Homo sapiens: one gene and its partners. The protein of the gene in region 4 purifies or fractionates together with the protein of the main gene of each other region. This does not show direct contact. Each region holds a gene or a part of one and is shown on either strand. Other genes may lie near its edges.

The links. The genes of interacting proteins can lie anywhere in the genome.
Region 1: the proteins of C10orf53 (region 4) and MNAT1 purify together in Homo sapiens (affinity purification with mass spectrometry; one large-scale study listed by BioGRID and IntAct). This does not show direct contact.
Region 2: the proteins of C10orf53 (region 4) and SPTB purify together in Homo sapiens (affinity purification with mass spectrometry; one large-scale study listed by BioGRID and IntAct). This does not show direct contact.
Region 3: the proteins of C10orf53 (region 4) and SPECC1L purify together in Homo sapiens (affinity purification with mass spectrometry; one large-scale study listed by BioGRID and IntAct). This does not show direct contact.

The regions. Positions count from the first base shown.
Region 1 is NC_000014.9:60,741,226-60,744,828, reverse strand, and holds part of MNAT1 (CDK-activating kinase assembly factor MAT1), read right to left. Parts: intron 1-3,603.
Region 2 is NC_000014.9:64,873,340-64,876,942, forward strand, and holds part of SPTB (spectrin beta chain, erythrocytic), read right to left. Parts: intron 1-3,603.
Region 3 is NC_000022.11:24,315,796-24,319,398, reverse strand, and holds part of SPECC1L (cytospin-A), read right to left. Parts: intron 1-3,603. UniProt on the Homo sapiens protein: Involved in cytokinesis and spindle organization. May play a role in actin cytoskeleton organization and microtubule stabilization and hence required for proper cell adhesion and migration.
Region 4 is NC_000010.11:49,678,178-49,682,494, forward strand, and holds the start of C10orf53 (UPF0728 protein C10orf53), read left to right. Parts: upstream 1-1,473; 5' UTR 1,474-1,520; coding exon 1,521-1,617; intron 1,618-4,317.

The sequences.
Region 1 (3,603 bases), on a different chromosome or scaffold from region 4:
AGATATCAAAAATGCCTCAACTAAGAGTAAGAACCACATCCTAGAATAAGGCATATTCTAGGTGCACCCTAACAAAGACTAAAATCAAGCCCCAACAAGTTTTTGAAGGGATTAAAAATGTGAGGTTGAGTTACACTAAAGTAAGGAAACAATGGGTTCTCCACATATCATTCTAGCAAAGAGTAAAACCAAGCCTACACAAGTTCAAAGTTATCTGCCAGTAACTGAACTACCTGCAAGAATTTTTAAAATCAACACTTTTCACAAAAATACAAAATCCAGAATCTCTATAATATACCACCTACAATTAAAAAGTAGTAAACATGCAAAAATAAATAAGCAGAAAACTGTAACCTACAGTCAAATAAAAGCAGTCAATAGAAACCAACCCTGAGATGGCTGGGCGTGATGGCTCACACCTGTAATCCCCGCACTTTGGGAGGCCGAGGCACGCAGATCACTTGAGGTCAAGAGCTTGGGACCAGCCTGGCCAACAGGGCAAAACCCCATCTCTACTAAAAATACAAAAATTAGCCAGGCATGGTAGCAGGCACCTGTAATCCCAGCTACTTGGGAGGCTGATGCAGGAGAATCACTTGAACCTAAGAGGTGGAGGTTGCAGTGAGCCAAGATCATGCCACTGCACTCCAGCATGGGCAACAGAGTGAGGCTCTCTCAAAAACACAAACAAAAAAGAAACCAACCCTGAGATAGCCAAGGAGTTAACTCTTACAGACAGAAACCTTAAGATTGACTATCATAAATATTTTAAAGGAATTAATGGAAAATATGTTCAAAAAATTAAAGGAAAATGCATTCAAAGAACTAAAGAAAAATATATTCTTGATGAGTATATAGATGGGAAATATCAGAGAAATGAAAACTATAAAAAAGATAAAAATGAAAACTCTACGACCAAAACAATACAATAAGAAATGAAAAATCTATTGGATGAGATTAGAAATGGCAGACAGGCAACAGTGAACCTGAAGATAGATCAATAGAAAATATATAATCTAAAGAACAGGGAGAAAGAGATATGAGTAAAATTAACTTCTCAACAGAAACACTAGAGAACAATGAAATGATATCTTTTGTATGGTCAAAGAAATGCCAACCCATAATTCTATATTCAGCAAAAATATCCTTCAAACACTAGGGTGAAATAAAAACACTTTCTTATAAACAAAATCAGAGTATATTCTTCACCAACACACCTACACTATAAGAAATGCTAAGGAGCTGGGCGCAGTGGCTCACGCCTGTAATCTCAGCACTTTGAGAGGCTGAGGCAGGCGAATCACCTGAGGTCAGGAGTTCAAGGCCAGCCTGGCCAACATGGTGAAACTCCATCTCTACTGAAAATACAAAAATTAGCCGGGCATGGTGGCACACACCTGTAATCCCAGTTACTCAAGAGGCTGAGGCAGGAGAATCGCTTGAACCTGGGAGGCGGAGGCTGCAGTGAGCCGAGATTGTGCCATTGTACTCCAGCCTGGGCGACAGAGCAAGACTCCGTCTCAAAAAAAAAAAGAAATGCTAAAGAATGTTCTTTAGGCAGATGGAAATCAATATGACTATAAAATCAGATCCAAAGGAAGAAGGGCAATATCAAAGATAGTAAATAGGTGAAAATAAGAGACTATATTTCACCACTTCATACCCACTAGAATGGCTATAATCAAAAGACAACTATAACAAGCATTGGCAACTACATAGAGAGACTAGAGCCCTCATTCACTGCTATAAGATGGTACAGCCACATTGGAAAACAAACTAAACAAAGAGTTACCATATGATCCAATAATTCTACTCCTAAATATATACATGAGAGAAACAAAAACATTTGTCCATACGAAAACTTGTACATGAATGTTCACAGCAGCATTATTCATAACAGCCAAAAAGTAGAAATGACTCAAATGTTCTTCAACTGATGAATGGATAAAATGTAGTATAGCCATACAATGGAATAATATTCAGCAATAAAAAGAAATGTTGTACTCATACATGCTACAACATGGATGAACCTAGAAAATATTACACTATGTAAAAGAAGCCAGTCCAGAGAACCACATACTGTATGATTCCATTTATATGAAAGGTCCAGAATAGGAAAATCTACATAGTCAGAAAGTAGATAACTGGTTGCCTAGTGCTATGGGAGGGGGGAGTTGAGGAGTGTGACGGCTAAGTGGTGAGAGGTATCTTTGTGGGGTAATATGTACATCTCTGAGAATATACTAAAAGCCATTGAAACGTACACTTTAAATGTGTGAATTTTATGGTACGTGAATTATATTCAGTGAAGTAGTTTTTTAAAAACATACCTTTCCTTAAAGACAACTGACTGTTTAAAGCAAAAATAACAACAAATCACAAATACAAATAAAAGATATGCTGAAAGAAACCACTAATAATAATAATAACAATGAGGAGTTAATTGTTGGCCATAAAAGGTGACTGTAATCCCAGAACTTTGGGAGGCTGAGGTGGGTAGATCACTTGAGGCCAGGAGTTTGAGACCAGCCTGGGCAACACAGTCAGAGACTAGCTCTACAAAAAAAAATTAAAAATTAGCTGGCTGTGGCAGTGCACACCTGTAGTCCCAAATTCTGGGGTGGCTGAAGTGGAAGGATCCCTTGAACCCCTGAGTTCAAGGTTGCAGTGACCTGTGATAAAGCCACCACACTCCAGCCTGGGTGATAGAGTGAGATCCTGTCTCTTATTTAAAAAAAAATAAAAATAAATAAAAAATAAAAAGCTACCGGCTAATAGGCCAATACTTTAAAAAATCCAATTATTTCAAAATAAGGCAGGAAAGGAGCAAAAGAACAACAAAAAAACCAAAGGAATACAAGGAAACATGTAGACTTAAACCCAATGATATCAATAATTAGATATAATGGACTAGTACACCAATTAAAAGGCAGAGATTGTCAATCCAGATAAAATGGCAAGACCCAGTGAAGTAGAGTCTCCCAGAGACAGACACAAATTGGTTGAAAGTAAATGGATGGGGGCCAGGTACAGCAGCTCACTCTTGTAATACCTACATTTTGGGAGGCCCAGGCAGGAGGATCACTTGCGCTCAGGCGTTTGAGACCAGCTTGGGAAACATAGCAAGACCCCATCTCTACTAAAAATTAAAAAAAAAAAAAAAAAAAAAACCCCAGGCGCAGTGGCTCACGCCTGTAATCCCAGCACTTTGGGAGGCCGAGGCAGGAGGATCACGAGGTCAGGAGATCGAGACCATCCTGGCTAACACAGTGAAACCCTGTCTCTATTAAAAATACAAAAAATTAGCCAGACGTGGTGGCCCGTGCCTGTAATCCCAGCTACTCGGAAGGCTGAGGCAGGAGAATGGTGTGAACCTGGGAGGCGGAGCTTGCCGTGAGCTGAGATCGCGCCACTGCACTCCAGCCTGGGCAACAGAGCGAGATTCCATCTCAAAAAATAAAAATAATAAATACATAAATAAATAAATAAGCCAGGTGTGGTGCCATGCACCTGTAGTCCTAGCTACTCAAGAGGATGAGGCAGGAGGATCATTTGAGCCCAGGAGTTTATGATTGTGCCACTGATATTACATGGGTTAAAAAA
Region 2 (3,603 bases), on a different chromosome or scaffold from region 4:
TCAGTAAATATTTGTTGAAGACTGACATACAAATCAAGGCCCTCAAGATCACTGGACAAAAAGAGGCTGCTGAAGTCCAAAATGAAGCATAAGCACAATAATGCCCAGTAAATTTGGGGTAAAGGAATGAAAAACCCAAAACATCAATTAACGGGCAGATGAACCCTTCATTTATCTATGGCATGCTACTGAGAATCCATTAATTCATGCTTTGGAACAGCATCTGTGCATACTCTGGAGGGCCATTCTTGAGGTTCTGTGGCTATGGTAAAGGGTAATACCATTAACAAGTGTCTTCTCTCCAGAACCAATGAACTTATGTGGAATATTCTGCTGAAGAAAAAAAGCAACCGCGGTCTCAACCAGAAGGCCCAGAATATTCAATTACTCCACTGAGAAGACCTGGAAACAGCCCCAGCCTCAGAACTAGGCAACTGGGTCAAAGTCAGGTTTTGGAATAAACTACTAGAGGGACATTGAGTATATAAATGTACATTTCTAATCCTGTTTTGTAACTGGAAACCAGGAATAATCAGATCTTCCCTTCACATGCTCATCATAAGATAAAATAAGATGATGTGTAGACAAAGGCATGCTGAAAATTGAGTGGACTATAGTTATCTGTGATCATCATCTTGTACTGGCTGGGATCTAATTCACTTTCTCTTCACTGCCACTGGTGAGCTTTGTCAACAAAGATTTCATCACACCCCTTTATGACTTAAAAACTTCCAGTGGCTCAAACTTCTTCACAGGCTGAACCCCAACCACCTTTCTGGTCACACTTCTGCCATGTGGAACTACACTTCATCCCCTAACCTAATCATGCTTTATTGTCTGTGCTGGGCAATTTCCTAAAGCCCCACTCGCAGGCCCCCTCATCCTCCCTTCTTCCATTATAGAAATCCTAGGCACTTTCAAAGGTCTTCTCATTCCCCAACCTGAATGAGATGTTTCCTCCTGTACACCCTCTCTCTCAGGCATCCTGTTGAATCACTGCTTGTTTGCAAGGCCATTTTCGCACCAGATCAGTGATTCTCCATCTGATCTCTTTGTGTGTCTTCAGCACATAACAGTGTAAGACACGTGGTAGACACCCAATGTCTGCTCTTTTTGAATACACCTCAATTCTCTCTCGGGCCTTTCTACCTCTAACTCTCTATGACTTATGACTCGAAGTCAGTATTATGAAAGGCCTTTTCTTGCTTTTCCACCCTTCTGGAAATATACTGGAAGATGAAGCTAATTGACCACTCCTAGGGTTCTTCTAGAAACAGGCTGGGACTCAAAAGAGGGACAGAATAAGGTTACAGACTTCTTTCTGGTCCACATAATTTATGCCTTTAAAGTATGCTTTGTTTTATTTGAATTGCTATACATTCTCAAGTGAGACACGCCCATATTTAAGTCTGGTACAAATGGAAAATATTTTCAAAGTATTCATTTTCGGAATTATTCAAGTTTCTTCTCCTTTTCACAATGGTGGAAACTCCTAAATTGACTATAATTCGAAGCAATTATTGTTCTTTAGCTATCAAGGTGCCGTTAGTCTCTTCATAAATATCCTGGATGATCTGAGCCTGGTTCAATGCAAAGCCTATTTTTTTTTCAGCCCTGTGCCTTTTCACTTGCTAAATTTATAACATTCAAATGAAAGAAAGGAAGCCCACTTTTGCCCCCACTGCTCACATGATATATGCTGAGTTTTAATTGCCCTTGTAATTCTACCCTCAGCCAGGTCTGCACAGGTATGATGTGGAAATAAAACATTATGGCAAAGCCTGAGAAGGGCTTGCTGAGGTAGGAAGAAGAGGGCTTTGTAATATTTCCTGCAACCAGGAAAAGGAAAGAGAAAAATGAAAGGTGGTCTGGGAATTTGATAAGCTAGCCAGACAATTCATTAAGGAAGCATTTTCTGTCTATGACCACCTCTAAGACTACGTGAGCTATAAAGGCTAGGGATCCCCTGATGGTTTGATATTCAGCTGAGGCTGGCTGAAAATGGAAGAATGTGGATCACTTGGCTGTGAATTAAGAAATACACGCAGCAACAGAGGGAAACACACTATGGCATTTTCTAAATATTTACCAAGGGGAGTTGGCAATCCGTGAGCAGAGCCAGATCTGACAGTTAATTCTCCTGACTGCCTCCTACGCTCTTCCTCAATCACTATCTCCATCTCCAAAACAGGTGACCTTCCCCTAATGGGGTGAAGAAGGAAGCATCTCTGTGATAAACCCAGCAAATGCCACATGATGATTCTGGCACACAGACCACTGCATCTACTCTTCTTCCTCAGATTTCTTATCTAAAACAGAGGAGTAACCTACGATCTGTCTGTTAAAATCAACTGAGTCAATACAAGCTGCTTCAAAGATAAAATTCTTCTTTCCACAGTCATTTTTGGCTTGTGATATCCATATGGTTTCAGAACCCAGTATCCATGAACTTCCTTGCCAGTCCTCATTATATAATCAAATTTCTCATCAGCCCACATAGCACAGTTATTTTCACTCTTGATCTTCCCAAGTTCATTGATAAATGTTAATCTGTAGGTCTCAGGTTATTTTTTTAAATTCTATAATTTTAAAATTCCATAACAAAGAAACATATTTTAAATCACTTTTTAATTAATTCATGAATTAGAGATGGCACCTCATTCTGTTGTCCAGGCTGGAGTACAGTGGCACAATCATAGTTCAGCCTCTCTAACTCCCTGGCTCAAGCAATCCTCCTCCCTTAGCCTCCGAAGTAACTGGGATTATAGGCATAAGCCACTATACCTGGCTTTTTTATATCAATTTTTTGTTTGTTTGTTTGAGACACAATCTCACTTTATTGTCCAGGCTGGAGTGCAGTGGCGCGATGTCGGTTCACTGCAACCTCTACCGCCCAGGTTCGAGCAATTTTCCTGTCTCAGCCTCCCGAGTAGCTGGGATTACAGGTGCCCACCACCACACCTGGCTAATTTTTGTATTTTTAGTAGAGATAGGTTTGGCCAGGCTGGTCTCGAACTCCTGAGACCAGCCTGACCAGCATGGTGAAACCCCATCTCTACTTTAAATCTCCCACTGGTCATGTTTCCTACCTTTTCAGGTCTTGAGCAGACAGTAAAATTTTGTGTTTGATTTTGAAATTAAAGTGCTGCTCTTCAAGAACAATTTGGTGATTGGGTTTAGGTTAAAACACGTATCTGACGGTCTCAACAGTTCTCTAAAGTCCTTCCCCATGCCCCCCAAAAATGGACATAATTACTTAAGATTTCTTGTCTCTAGATCGTAATGTGTATAACTATTGTTTTAAAATGTATACATGTGTACACCTTACAAGCAATGGGGGAGATTATAGAACAGTTTAGAGTTTAAAGCCTGAGACTGCCTTCTCTCCTGCTTATCCTCAGTACCTTTTCTTTAAGATTGCACTAAAATGAAAGGACTAGATATTAAAAACACATCCTCTCATAATCTCCTCCAAAGGAAATAAAATCTCAGTAGTTTGGTTAGGCAGAACTTCAGGAAGTAAACCATATTGGCCTTGAGAGTGAGACAGGAAAGAAATGAACTCGAGTAATAAGAAGTGTGGGTGCCATAGCTACACATCAA
Region 3 (3,603 bases), on a different chromosome or scaffold from region 4:
CCCTCACGCTGTTCTCGTGATAGTGAGTTCTCATGACAGCCGATGGTAAGGGGCTTCCCCTTTGCTTGGCTCTCATTCTCCTCCTTCCTGCCACTATGTGGAGAAGAATGTGCCTGCTACCCCTTCCACCATAATTCTAAGTTTCCAGAGGCCTCCCCATCTCTGTGGACCTGTGAGTAAATTAAACCTCTTTTCTTTATGAATTACTCAGTCTGGGGCAGTTCTTTACAGCAGCATGAGAATGGACTAATACAGATTCTAAGTGGAATACATAAGGAAGAAAGCAGAGCAGCAGAGGAGGAATGTGGGCAGGTAGATCAATGAGGTAAAAGAGGTCCCACATTCAGGGGCGGCAGTAAGAACAGAGAAGAGGCAAGAAATCTGTGACAGATATCAAAGGCAAGAGTAACCAGACTGGGATAAACAACTGTATACGGAGGCCAAAAATGGAAAAAGATGGCATAACTTTTTTTTTTTTTTTGAGGCTCTGTCACCCAGGCTAGAGTGCAGTTGTGCCATCACAGCTCACGGCAACTCTACCTCCCAGGCTCAGGTGATCCTCCCACCTCAGCCACCCGAGTAGCTAGGACTACAAGCACACGCCACCATACCCAGCTAATTTTTGTATTTTTTGTAGAGACGGGGTTTCACCACATTGGGCATGTTGCCCAAGCTGGTCTTGAACTCCTAGGCTCAAGTGATCTGCCCACCTTGGCCTCCTAAAGTGCTGGGATTACAGGCGTGCACCATCGCACCTGGCTGGGGTAACTTTTTTCCCCAACATTAATTCCTTTCCCTAGTTCTGCAAGTGGTACCACATCCTTATCTAAATCAAAAATCCTTATAAAAAAGAAAATCTGGCTCTCCCTCTCCCCTCTCCCCTCTTTCCACGGTCTCCCTCTGATGCCGAGCCGAAGCTGGACTGTACTGCTGCCATCTCGGCTCACTGCAACCTCCCTGCCTGATTCTCCTGCCTCAGCCTGCCGAGTGCCTGCGATTGCAGGCGCGCGCCGCCACGCCTGACTGGTTTTCGTATTTTTTGGGTGGAGACGGGGTTTCGCTGTGTTGGCCGGGCTGGTCTCCAGCTCCTAACCGCGAGTGATCTGCCAGCCTCGGCCTCCCGAGGTGCCGGGATTGCAGACGGAGTCTCCTTCACTCATTGCTCAATGGTGCCCAGGCTGGAGTGCAGTGGCGTGATCTCGACTTGCTACAACATCCACCTCCCAGCAGCCTGCCTTGGCCTCCCAAAGTGCCGAGATTGCAGCCTCTGCCCGGCCCCACCCCGTCTGGGAAGTGAGGAGCGTCTCTGCCTGGCCGCCCATCGTCTGGGATGTGAGGAGCCCCTCTGCCTGGCTGCCCAGTCTGGAAAGTGAGGAGCGTCTCTGCCCAGCCGCCATCCCATCTAGGAAGTGAGGAGCGCCTCTTCCCGGCCGCCATCCCATCTAGGAAGTGAGGAGCGTCTCTGCCCGGCCGCCCATCATCTGAGATGTGGGGAGCGCCTCTGCCCTGTCGCCCCGTCCGGGATGTGAGGAGCGTCTCTGCCCGGCCGCACCATCTGAGAAGTGAGGAGACCCTCTGCCTGGCAACCGCCCTGTCTGAGAAGTGAGGAGCCCCTCCGCCCAGCAGCCGCCCCGTCTGAGAAGTGAGGAGCCCCTCCGCCCGGCAGCCACCCCGTCTGGGAAGTGAGGAGCATCTCTGCCGGGCAGCCACCCCGTCCAGGAGGGAGATGGGGGGGTCAGCCCCCCGCCTGGCCAGCCGCCCCGTCCGGGAGGGAGGTGGGGGGATCAGCCCCCCGCCCGGCCAGCCGCCCCGTCCGGGAGGCGAGGGGCGCCTCTGCCCGGCCGCCCCTACTGGGAAGTGAGGAGCCCCTCTGCCTGGCCAGCCGCCCCGTCCGGGAGGGAGGTGGGGGGGTCAGCCCCCTGCCCAGCCAGCCGCCCCGTCCGGGAGGTTGGGGGGTCAGCCCCCCGCCCGGCCAGCGCCCCATCTGGGAGGTGAGGGGCGCCTCTGCCCGGCCGCCCCTACTGGGAAGTGAGGAGCCCCTCTGCCCGGCCAGCCGCCCCGTCCGGGAGGGAGGTGGGGGGGGTCAGCCCCCCGCCTGGCCAGCCGCCCCGTCCGGGAGGGAGGTGGGGGGGGTCAGCCCCCCGCCCGGCCAGCCGCCCCATCCGGGAGGTGAGGGGCGCCTCTGCCCGGCCGCCCCTACTGGGAAGTGAGGAGCCCCTCTGCCCAGCCAGCCGCCCCGTCCGGGAGGGAGGTAGGGGGGTCAGCCCCCCGCCCAGCCAGCCGCCCCGTCCAGGAGGGAGGTGGGGGGGTCAGCCCCACCGCCCGGCCAGCCACCCCCTCCGGGAGGGAGGTGGGGGGGTCAGCCCCCCGCCCGGCCAGCCGCCCCGTCCAGGAGGTGAGGGGCGCCTCTGCCCGGCCGCCCCTACTGGGAAGTGAGGAGCTCCTCGGCCCGGCCAGCCGCCCCGTCTGGGAGGGAGGTTGGGGGGGTCAGCCCCCCGCCCGGCCAGCCGCCCCATCCAGGAGGTGAGGGGCGCCTCTGCCCGGCCGCCCCTACTGGGAAGTGAGGAGCCCCTCTGCCCGGCCACCACCCCGTCTGGGAGGTGTACCCAACAGCTCATTGAGAATGGGCCATGATGACAATGGTGGTTTTGTGGAATAGAAAGGGGGGAAAGGTGGGGAAAAGATTGAGAAATCGGATGGTTGCCGTGTCTGTGTAGAAAGAGGTAGACATGGGAGACTTTTAATTTTGTTCTGTACTAAGAAAAATTCTTCTGCCTTGGGATCCTGTTGATCTGTGACCTTACCCCCAACCCTGTGCTCTCTGAAACATGTGCTGTGTCCACTCAGGGTTAAATGGATTAAGGGCGGTGCAAGATGTGCTTTGTTAAACAGACGCTTGAAGGCAGCATGCTCGTTCAGAGTCATCACCACTCCCTAATCTCAAGTACCCAGGGACACAAACACTGCGGAAGGCCGCAGGGTCCTCTGCCTAGGAAAACCAGAGACCTTTGTTCACTTGTTTATCTGCTGACCTTCCCTCCACTATTGTCCTGTGACCCTGCCAAATCCCCCTCTGCGAGAAACACCCAAGAATGATCAATAAATAAATAAATAAATAAATAAAAAGAAAATCTGTTCATGTTTGAAAGATAAAAGAAGAAAAATTCTTCTCTGGATTACTGTAATGAGTAGACAGAATAATCTGAGGTAAAGACAAGTGAATTGATACATGGAAATCAAACAGTCTTAGGAAAGTCACTGGAGGAGGTAAAGGTAGAGCAGATGAACTGAAGAATAAGGATGTTGTTATAGGCTGAACTGTGCCCGCACAAAACACACAAAATTAATATGTTGAAGCCCTAACCCCAAAACCTCAAATGTGACTGCACCTGGAGACAGGATAATGAAGTTAAAGAGGTAATTAACGTAAGATGAAGTCATTAGGGTGGGCCCTAATCCAACATGACTGGCGTTCTTGTAAGAGGAGGAGATGAGGACACACACACAGAGGGAAGACACAGAGAAGGCAGCCATCTGCAAGACAAAAAAGAGATCTCAGGAGAAAGTAAATCTGCTAACACCCTCATTTCAGACTTCTGGCTT
Region 4 (4,317 bases):
GTGGGAAAGGGTTTTTTAAATCCTTTACTGTTACAGTAAAACTACAGAAAGCAAGAGATAAAGAAACATAAGCGGTCTTGAAAACAGAAGAGTAACGGAAAACAACTATTCATACAAAACTTTTAGCAAAGTTAAAACAACGTTAAATTTCTAATTAATAAAAACACTACAGTGAGTAGAGGATTTTTGCCTTTAAAGACGTGTACAAAGTTTATAGAGAACCAGAAAATAAGTCCTTCTAAGACAAGACAGGTAACCACATAGAGCCAAGAGGATGAATAATGACATCATGTACAGTCCTGCCTTCCTCCATAGTCTGCTGGGTTCAGCTGTGTTGGTGAATTCAGTGGTTCTTGTCCGATGGTGCGAAACTCAAGTGCTGGGGGAAATTATGTATGACCCATAATAATGTCAAAATTCTGCTGATATCATTCCTCTATTTAACAATCGTGTATAAACTAATTCTCATCAAAGAAATATGTATCATAGAACATACTGTACACGTGGAGAGAATTAAAATACACAGTAGCATACGTTGGGAGAATTAGTGGGAAAGGGTTTTTAAAATCCTTTACTGTTCAAAAGGAGGGTAAAAATATCAACTACAATTGAATATTTAGAAAGTAAAGAAATGCTGTAATCGCAAGGGTATTGCGATTGTTAGGTTGGGCTAATTTCTGTAATAAACAACCCCCAAAATCTCAGTGGTTATGGAATAAATGTTTCCTTCTGGCTTCGGTCACCAACTAATGCAGATGGGTGGGGCTCTATTCGGCGCAGCTACTCAGTGGTCCAGGTTCCTCCCACGTTTTGGGTCTGTCTCCCCGGGAGCCTCGGGTCCTCCCTGGGATCCCGTATCTGGCTACCGATAAGAAGAGGGAGACAGCAGGTGTGGAGGAGACTTTTTAGGAGCCATGCCTAGAAGTGGTGGATGTCTTTTATGTCCAAATTCCAATGAGCAGAACTGAGCAAATAAAAGGGAATTGGACGAATTCAGTTTTGGCTCCACCAAATAGCCTAACTGGTGACAGAAGGGGCCGGGGGAAGAAGGTGGGGGAAGAAGAATGATGAACGAATACTCCCAATCAATCAAAAAGAGGCAAGAAAATAGAAGAAATGCAAGGGTTTCCAATCCATACTACACCCCTGTCACTCTTGGGACCGCAACTTGCCCTCCCAGAGCCTCGGTTTTGTAAACAAAAAACATAAAATACTTCCTAGGGATGGTAAACTGATTCAACCAGATAACGCAGGGAAAATGCTTCGCACGCCGCCTGACACGAACTTACTGTGCCTGGCTGCTGCTGTTATTTATCACTAACACTTGCCACACCAGCTCAAACGCGCGTATTTGCGGACCAGGCGCTGAGGGTCACGTGAGCAGCTTGGGGCCGGGAGGATCCCCTAGCGCCACCCCGGCCCCGCCCGGCGCGTAGCGACGCCCACGCGCCCGGGCCGGAAGAGAGGTTGCTTAGCAGCGTGTGTTTCTCCCTTGCCTCTGCGGCGGCGGAGGCCTGGCGATGCCCAAGAACGCAGTGGTCATCCTGCGCTATGGGCCCTACAGCGCGGCAGGCCTACCGGTGGAGCACCACACCTTCCGCCTGCAGGGCCTGCAAGGTGGGCCTCCTCGCCGCGTGCGCCCCTGAGGGCCCCAGCCTCTGAGCATCCGTGCAGGTGGTGCCCTGTGCCTAGGCCTTCCTCAGACCCCCACGAAGCGCCACCTCTCCAGGAAGTCTTCCCCAGGATGATGTTGCAACCTATGGCTTCCAGGGCTGGGCTAAAAGAGTGGGAAGGCTCTTCTATCCAAGAGTGAGCTGTGGGCCCACCCAGTGCCCAGCAAATTACAGAAATTACCTCCATAGAAAAAATTACATAACCCTGCTTTAAGAATTGGGAAACTGAGGATCAAGAATATTAAGTGACTTTCACAACTCAAATGGCTGGGAAGTAGCGTTGCTGGTATTCCATCTCTTAATCGTTCATGCAGCAGACTTTTATTAAGCACGCAGTGTGTGTTGGACACCCTTCCAGGGACTGAGGACACACTGTTAAACAGTGATGAATGTCCTTGAAGTAATCTCCTTGTTAACTGCTAAATGACAGCTGTGCCTAAGCTCTGACTGAGGCTAGGTGGTGCCATGGGAGCTAACCACAGTGGGACCTGTGACTAGCCATAATGGGAGGGGAGAGGGAGAGGTCTGGAAAGGCTCATTTAAGTGGAGCCTTAAATGAGCCCACATTTAAGTAGACCTTTAAAGAATGAGTAGAAACTAACCAGGTAAAGAGAGGAATGCCTTCCAGGCAGAGGGACTAATAATATAGGCAATGGCTGGAGGCATTCAATAAATGATGTATTAATATTTGTTAAACTGATGGGGGATGAGGCTGGAGAGGTAATCAGGCCAGATCCTGCAGTGCCGCAGATAAGTTTTAGGCAGGGGATGAAGCTGTTGCTGCTCTGAGGAGAACAGATTAGAGGGGGCAAGAGTGGAAACAAGGAAGACAAGTCTGTTGGGGTGGTCCAGGGCTGAGATGAGAGTAGCTTGGACCATAAAGGAGACCATGGATCAAAGTGAAAGCAATGGTACTTCCTGAGAGGATGGAGGTGGGAGGTAAGGGTAAAAAGAATGTTATCCGGATCTAATCAGTGTCTGACTTGAAACAGTGCTGATGGATGGATGTACTGTCCACTAAAATCAAAGACACCAAAGATGGACCAAAATTTGGAGGAATATGTGGAATCGTTCCAAAGGAACAGTCTATTTTGGTCATACAGATAGTCCCCAACTTAGACTTCTTGACTTTAGCATGGGTTTATTGGGAGGTAACCCTATCCTAAGTTGAGGCACATCTGAACCTACAATGGTTCCACTTAACGATTTTTCCACTTTATGATGGGCTTATCCAGGTATTAAGCCCACTTTCCACTTACAGTGGGCTCATTGGGACCTAGCCCCATCATAAGTCAAGGAGCATCTGAATTAAGCTTCATGTGCTTTCGGCTACCTAGACAGAGGTGCTGAATCAGCTCTGTTGTTCTGGAGTTCAGAGAAAAAGTCTGAAATGGAGATAGAAAGATGTGAGTCATTGACTTGGAGAGAACATATAGAATGAGATGAGAGCCCAGGAATGACCATTGATGAACTCCCATCCTATGACCCAAACTAAGAGTCTTCCAGGCAAAATACCCTGAAGCCTAAGGACACAAAAATTAGTTTTAGCTGAGCAATCAGGGAAAGCCTCCTGGAAGAGATGGCATTTGAGTTTGAGTTTGAAGGATGGGTAGGATTTCAATCAGCAGAGGAAGTTACTTTCTGTGAGAGAACAGTTGATAGAGAAATTTCTGTTGCAAATACCTCCATGTTTGTATTTGTCTATTGGGATTGCCAAAACAAAATACCATAGACTATGGGACTTAAACAATAGAAATATATTTTTTCAGTCTAAAGGCTAAAAGTCCCTGATCAAGGTCTGGCAAGGTCAGCTTCTGGTGAGGGCTCTGGGCGCTCTTCCTGGCTTGCTGACAGCCACCTTCTCTTTTGTCCTCACCTGGTGGGATTATATGGGGAGAGCGGGGAGCAAGCTCACTGGTGTCTCTTCTTATAAGAAGAAAGACACTAATCCTATCAGATTGGGTCCTCATCCTTATAACCTCATTTAACCTTAATTACCTCTTTAAGCACCTGTAGTCACATTGGGAGTTAGGGCTTCCATATATGAAGTTGGGGGAAGGGGGGCAACAATTCAATTCCTAGCAGTGTTGCATGGTGATGTTTAAAATGTTTTGTAGTTTTGGCTAAGAAGACAGCCTAAATAAGTGACTTTTCTCTTCCTCCCCCTCTGATGAGCCACACCTACCCACCCTCACCTCATAATCTACCTTTAGTTTATGTTCACTGTCTCTAAAAATAACGTGGGTAAAACATATATTTAAAATGTTGCCATTTTAACCATGTTAAGCATACAATTCAGTGACATTAATTATCTTTACAATGTTGTGGAACCATCACTATTCTCTCTTTTTAAAATTTTTCAACACCCCAGACAGAAACTGTATTCCTTAAGCAACAACACCCTATCCCTCTGTGTCCAGAATTTATTCCTTCTGGTGGGTTCATGGTCTCGCTGACTTCAAGAATGAAGCCAGGGACCTCGCGGTGAGTGTTACAGCTCTTAAAGGTGGTGCATCCAGAGTTGTTTGTTCCTCCTGGTGGGCTCGTGGTCTCGCTGACTTCAGGAATGAAGTTGCAGACCCTTGCAGTGAGTGTTACAGCTCTTAAAGGTGGTGCAGACCCAAAGTGAGCAGCAGCAAGATTT